Linked DNA regions of Homo sapiens: region 1 is linked to region 2. Evidence: fine-mapped expression QTL. A gene starts in region 2. The other region holds a variant in brackets. All regions are shown on one strand. Distances are between the middles of the regions. Region 1 overlaps FLNA (filamin A). Region 2 holds the start of EMD (emerin).

Region 1 (2,892 bases), 28 kb after region 2:
AGGGCTGCTGCTCACTAGCCCATCCCCACCCTGCAGAAATTAGCATCCAGGATATGACAGCCCAGGTGACCAGCCCATCGGGCAAGACCCATGAGGCCGAGATCGTGGAAGGGGAGAACCACACCTACTGCATCCGCTTTGTTCCCGCTGAGATGGGCACACACACAGTCAGCGTGAAGTACAAGGGCCAGCACGTGCCTGGGAGCCCCTTCCAGTTCACCGTGGGGCCCCTAGGGGAAGGGGGAGCCCACAAGGTCCGAGCTGGGGGCCCTGGCCTGGAGAGAGCTGAAGCTGGAGTGCCAGGTAGGCCTGCTCACACCCCGAGTGCTCGCTCTCCTGCGTTGGCCAGGGTGGGGTTGGGGGTGGAGGAAAGAGCCGGCAGGCATGTCTACCTTGGCTATGCCTGGAGGGGGCCGAGGCTGGTGAAGCAGCCTTCAGTGAGGACAAACTGTTCTCCCACAGCCGAATTCAGTATCTGGACCCGGGAAGCTGGTGCTGGAGGCCTGGCCATTGCTGTCGAGGGCCCCAGCAAGGCTGAGATCTCTTTTGAGGACCGCAAGGACGGCTCCTGTGGTGTGGCTTATGTGGTCCAGGAGCCAGGTACTGGGAACCCGGCTGGGGTTGGAGGAGGTGGGGCCTGAGTGTGGGTATTGGACCCAGGGCTGGCACAGATAGCCCTGCCTGGCACTCACTCTTCACTTTGAGGTCACAGGGCCACCCAGGCTGTTCGTGGGAGGTGGGAGGCCCAAAGGCTGATGAGCCGGTCTTACACTCTTTCCCTGCCCAGGTGACTACGAAGTCTCAGTCAAGTTCAACGAGGAACACATTCCCGACAGCCCCTTCGTGGTGCCTGTGGCTTCTCCGTCTGGCGACGCCCGCCGCCTCACTGTTTCTAGCCTTCAGGTGAGGCACCGAGAGAAACCGCCCACCTGGGGCTCCTGGGCCCGGACAGACCAGAGCCACCGCAGAGACCAGGCCTTGGCCCTGTGTTCAGTGACCCCCCTGGCCCAGCTCTGGGTTCCAGGCCTCTGCTCTGGCCGGGTGCAGCCCACGCTTGGGGTCGGCAGGAAATATCCTGCCCACCACGTGGAGTTTTTCTCGTGTCTCAGGTCTAAAGGCTTTGAACAGAAGCCTGTGCCCCTTGAGCACCAGGGCTGCGGTTTAAAGAGGGACAGCCTGCCAAGGCTGGGTGCTGCCCACAGGGTGGGGCAGCCCTCCCTTCCTGCCACCTGGGTGTGTGCGACGGCAGAGTGTGGGGGCAGGGGCGGGGATGTGCGCCTGTGGCTTGCTGCCCCTTGCAAATCAGTGGCTCTCCCTCTTTAAACCAAGTTGGACGCCAGATGGGTAAGTGCGACCCGCGGGCCTCTTGCTCCTGGGGCCTTTCCGTCCTCCCTTGCCCTGGC[T/C]CAAGCACCCCCATCTAACCATGTCTGCTGTGCTTCCAGGAGTCAGGGCTAAAGGTCAACCAGCCAGCCTCTTTTGCAGTCAGCCTGAACGGGGCCAAGGGGGCGATCGATGCCAAGGTGCACAGCCCCTCAGGAGCCCTGGAGGAGTGCTATGTCACAGAAATTGACCAAGGTGAGGCCCTGTCCCTGCCCGGCCGCCCTGCCCTGCTGGCTGGAAGCAGGCTGAGAGTACAAAAGGAAGGTACCGCTTCTGTAAGCAGCCAAGACGGGGCCCCAACTCCTGGGCCCCCTAAGCCAGGCAACCCTTTCCCAATTGGTGACCCAAGCCGCTGGGGATGTGGCTCGCCACCCACAGCTATTAGGAAGGCCTTCTACCCTGCAGTACCATGCCATCTCCACAGGGAAAGACTCAAAGTCCAGCCTCAGTGCTGCCCGGCCCTTCAGCCACGGCCATGGTACTTGTGCACAGGCCTGGGGCAGCCTTGTGGGTAGGAGGAGCCCAGTGGGCTTCATTTCACGGCCTAGTCCTGCCCTTCCCAGCTGCATGACCTGAAGCAAGTTCCTGCCCGTCTCTGAGCCTGTTAACATGCAGGGGATATGGTGTTCACGGTAACCTTTCTTAGGAGGCAGCAAGGCCTGGGTTTGGCTTGTAAAAGATTTCCGTCCCAATGCACCCTGACGGTGGGCAGCTTGAGTGTCTAAACCTTCGGCCCTCAGGAGGTCTGCTGCGGGGTGCAGGTGCCCAGCGTGGCTGGGCTCACACTGATGGACCGGCAAAATGGGGAGGGCCAGGGTTGAGGCTGTTCCTCACAGACACCATCTGCTGGTTTGAGGAGGGGCCCCAGGCCCACAGCATGACTCCCTGCTCCTCAGATAAGTATGCTGTGCGCTTCATCCCTCGGGAGAATGGCGTTTACCTGATTGACGTCAAGTTCAACGGCACCCACATCCCTGGAAGCCCCTTCAAGATCCGAGTTGGGGAGCCTGGGCATGGAGGGGACCCAGGCTTGGTGTCTGCTTACGGAGCAGGTCTGGAAGGCGGTGTCACAGGTAAGTCTGTCGGTGCGGCTGCACGTGTGCACACAGCTGCTAGGCCCTTGCCTCCAAGCTCTTGGTGACAACAGGAGGCACCTGGAGGTGACAAGCCTGTGCTGGGTGGCCGAGGACAGGGAGGCAGGCCAGTCTGGCTCTGCCTGACCTCCTGTGCTCCCAGGGAACCCAGCTGAGTTCGTCGTGAACACGAGCAATGCGGGAGCTGGTGCCCTGTCGGTGACCATTGACGGCCCCTCCAAGGTGAAGATGGATTGCCAGGAGTGCCCTGAGGGCTACCGCGTCACCTATACCCCCATGGCACCTGGCAGCTACCTCATCTCCATCAAGTACGGCGGCCCCTACCACATTGGGGGCAGCCCCTTCAAGGCCAAAGTCACAGGTGAGCCTGGGGCCAAGCTATTGGCATCTGCCCAACGCCCGGCACCACAGCCACCTC
Region 2 (2,873 bases):
AGTCCAAACTTCCCCAGCCAGTCCCCTCTGACCTTTGGTTAGAGGCCAGGAACCCACACCCTCCTGAATGGCTCTGGGTGTTCAGCCCTTTATCCATGGGGCCTTGCCACTTGTGCTCATGCCCCAGCATCCCCTTTTGCCCCCAGGACTCTCAGGAAGAGTCTGAGCCTAGATCCCAGACCAGGGTGCTCTAGTCACACAGAGTCTCCCCGGAGGCCCAAGAGCCACCATTTGTACCCAGTGCCCCCCTGGATTTATCCAAACACAGCCGCGATCCCCTAGGTTGTACCCAAGTACAGGACGCCTGCCAGCCAGCTCACCTGGTGATGGAAAGCGTCAGCATCTGGGAATGAAGTCACTGACTGGCGGACAGCCCTGGACGGGCCGGCAGACTCGGGCTCCCCATAAGTCCTGGTGGTGAAGTAGCTCTCTTCATAGTAGTCGTCATTGTAGCCTTGGGAAGGGGGGCAGCGGTAGCAGAGGGGGCATCGGTGTGCCCCGCCTGGCCTGATGGCCCTAATCTGAATCCCATTTCGGGACCTGTAACAGTTTCTCCCTCCTAAGGCTGCTGGAGTGGTTGGGACTGAGGTCTCAGGTCCTCCCTGTGAGCGGGGTCCCTGACGAAGTCGGGTGAAGGTGCCAGCGTGCCCACCCAACCCCTGCCTTACCCTTGCTCTGGTAGAGTAAAGCGTCCTCTTTCTTGGGAAGATCATACATATCTGCATCCCCTCTAGTCGAATTCAAGTCTGGATTGAAAGGAGGAGACAGAACTGTTTGCCCCCCCAGACTTCCCTCCCCTTTCTCCAGTGCCGCTCTCGACCGGCCCCCCTGCCACACCCTCGCGACCCCATCCTCCCCGCGTCCCAGGCTGTCCCCACAGGCGAGGCTCTCACCAGAGAAGCTATAAGAGGAGGCGGCGGACGAGCTGGGGGGCGAGAGCCGCCGCCTCTGGGTCTCGTACTCGAAGATCTTCTTCTCGTAAAGCCTACGAGTTGATCCTGGCCGGACACGGGGCGGTCAGGGCCGCGGGCCGGGGAAGGCGCGCGGGGAGGGCAGCGGGGAGGTCGCGAGGCGGAGCACGAGGAGGGGGCCCGGAAGGGGTCCCGCCCGCCGCCGCGTACCTACTACAGGCCCGTGCGGGATGTTGTACCGGCGCAGCAAGGTGGTCAGCTCGGTATCCGAAAGATCTGCGTAGTTGTCCATGGCGGGTGCGGGCTCAGGCGGAGGCCTGGCGGCGGCCCGGGCCTACCAAAACCGGCCGAGCAACGGCTGCCGAGGAGCACGGCGGGGGCGGCACGAGCGCATCGGGAGCGGCCGCGCTCGCGTCACAGCCGAATCGTTGTCGCGTCACAGCCGAATCGTTGTCGCGTCACGGCCGCTGGCTCCGCAGGCTGCGCGCGCTGCGCGGGGCGGGACCTAACCGCGGGAGCAGCCGGCACAGACCGGCCGTGCCCTGAGAGCTGGGAGGCTGGGGCCGCGAGCCCAAACGTCATCAACGCGAGGATTGGCTAGCGGCGGAGAGGGCGGGGCCCGCCCGGGAGTCAGGGCGGTGGGAACCGGTCTCGCGATGGGAGCGGGCGGGGCCGCAAGCCCATATGTCACAAGCACGGGGATTGGCTAGTGATGGAGGGGGCGGGGCCCGCGCGGGCGCGGAGCAAAAGGTCTCGCGGTGGGAGCGAGCGGGGCCGCGAGCCCATACGTCACAAAACGGGGATTGGCTAGCGATGGAGGGGGAGGGGCCCGCGCGGGCGCGGAGCAGAAGGTCTCGCGGTGGGAGCGAGCGGTACTGCGAGCCCGGACGCCACTAATGCATGGATTGGCTAGCGGCGTAGGGGGCGGGGCCCGCGCGGGAGTCAGGGCAATGCAAACCGGTATCGCTGTGGGAGCAGGCGGGGCTGCGGGCCCAAAAGTCACAAACGCACAGATTGGCTAGCGGCAGGGGGCGGGGCCCGCGCGGGAGTCAGGGCGATGCGGCTGGGAGCCCAGACGTCACCCTGTGGCGTGCGGCGGGGTGAGAGGGGCGGGGCCTGCGCGCGAGGGACCCGGGACGTGCGAGCGGGCGAAGTCGGCGCTTGGGGTGGCTCTGGTCCCTAAGTCGCTTGGGCTTCGCCCGATCCCTGCACATCCCTACTCCCCGCCGTCGTCCCCCTTCCCAGGGCCCCAGAGCCTAGGGTTCCCCGGCCGCATCCCGGTCGGCCGCCCCAGCAGCGGCGGGAAGGGCCCGGACCCTAAGAGAGCGCGGGCCCCGGGCCAGGCGCTGCCGAGGGCGCTTTGTGTGCGCATCGCCCGGGAAGCGGCTGCAGGGCAAGGCCCGCGCCTACGCGATCCCCGCAGACCCCCTGCCATGGGCCCGCCTTCCCAGTCTGCGGGGCTCTCGCCCGCGCACATGTGCCTGCTGCTTACCACCGCCTACCCCTCTGCTTCCCTTCCTCCTCCCTCGCTCCACCCGGGAGGAAATGGGGCACTGGGCCAGGAGGCCGCTGGCACTCCAGAAGCAAGCAGTCTTCGAAGGGGCCCGGGCATGCCGACGGGCACGCCAGTGGGCGCGGGCAGAGGGCGCCGTGCGATGCGTGCAGAGACGACGTGTGCCCGCCTAACCCTTCATGCCGTTCATTCACCCGGGGCACTGGGGGGAGCTGAAGTGGGGCGTCCTCTCCTGTCGGAATGGTCCCTGAGCGCAGCGTGGCTAGGCAGGGGGCAGACGTGGGTGGCGAGCTATGGATTCCCATTCCCAGGGCCTTGATCAGATATTGGCTGTCTCATGGAGAAGAGAAAGGAGGTGACATTCATCATTCATATTCTTTTTTTTTTTTTTTTTTTTTTGAGACAGTCTCGCTCTGTCACCCAGGCTGGAGTGCAGTGGTGCAATCTTG

The links. PIP is the estimated chance that this variant, and not a neighbour inherited with it, causes the effect.
Region 1: its variant is the best candidate, but not a certain one, in a credible set for the expression of EMD in whole blood (TOPMed, PIP 0.57).

What each region holds. Positions count from the first base shown.
Region 1 is chrX:154,349,592-154,352,483 of GRCh38, reverse strand. It overlaps FLNA (filamin A), which reads left to right. Exons shown (of 48, transcript NM_001110556.2): 41 at 37-303; 42 at 463-600; 43 at 788-903; 44 at 1,443-1,575; 45 at 2,277-2,453; 46 at 2,617-2,835. Among named protein-coding and RNA genes, the nearest start is that of FLNA, 24 kb to the left of the region's middle. The variant T/C (reference allele first, on the strand shown) is at 1,404.
Region 2 is chrX:154,377,815-154,380,687 of GRCh38, reverse strand. It overlaps EMD (emerin), which reads right to left and starts at 1,393. Exons shown (of 6, transcript NM_000117.3): 1 at 1,122-1,393; 2 at 894-998; 3 at 669-746; 4 at 321-454. The coding sequence starts at 1,203. RefSeq lists an enhancer at 436-1,015 and silencers at 1,423-1,722, 1,733-2,152, 2,173-2,302.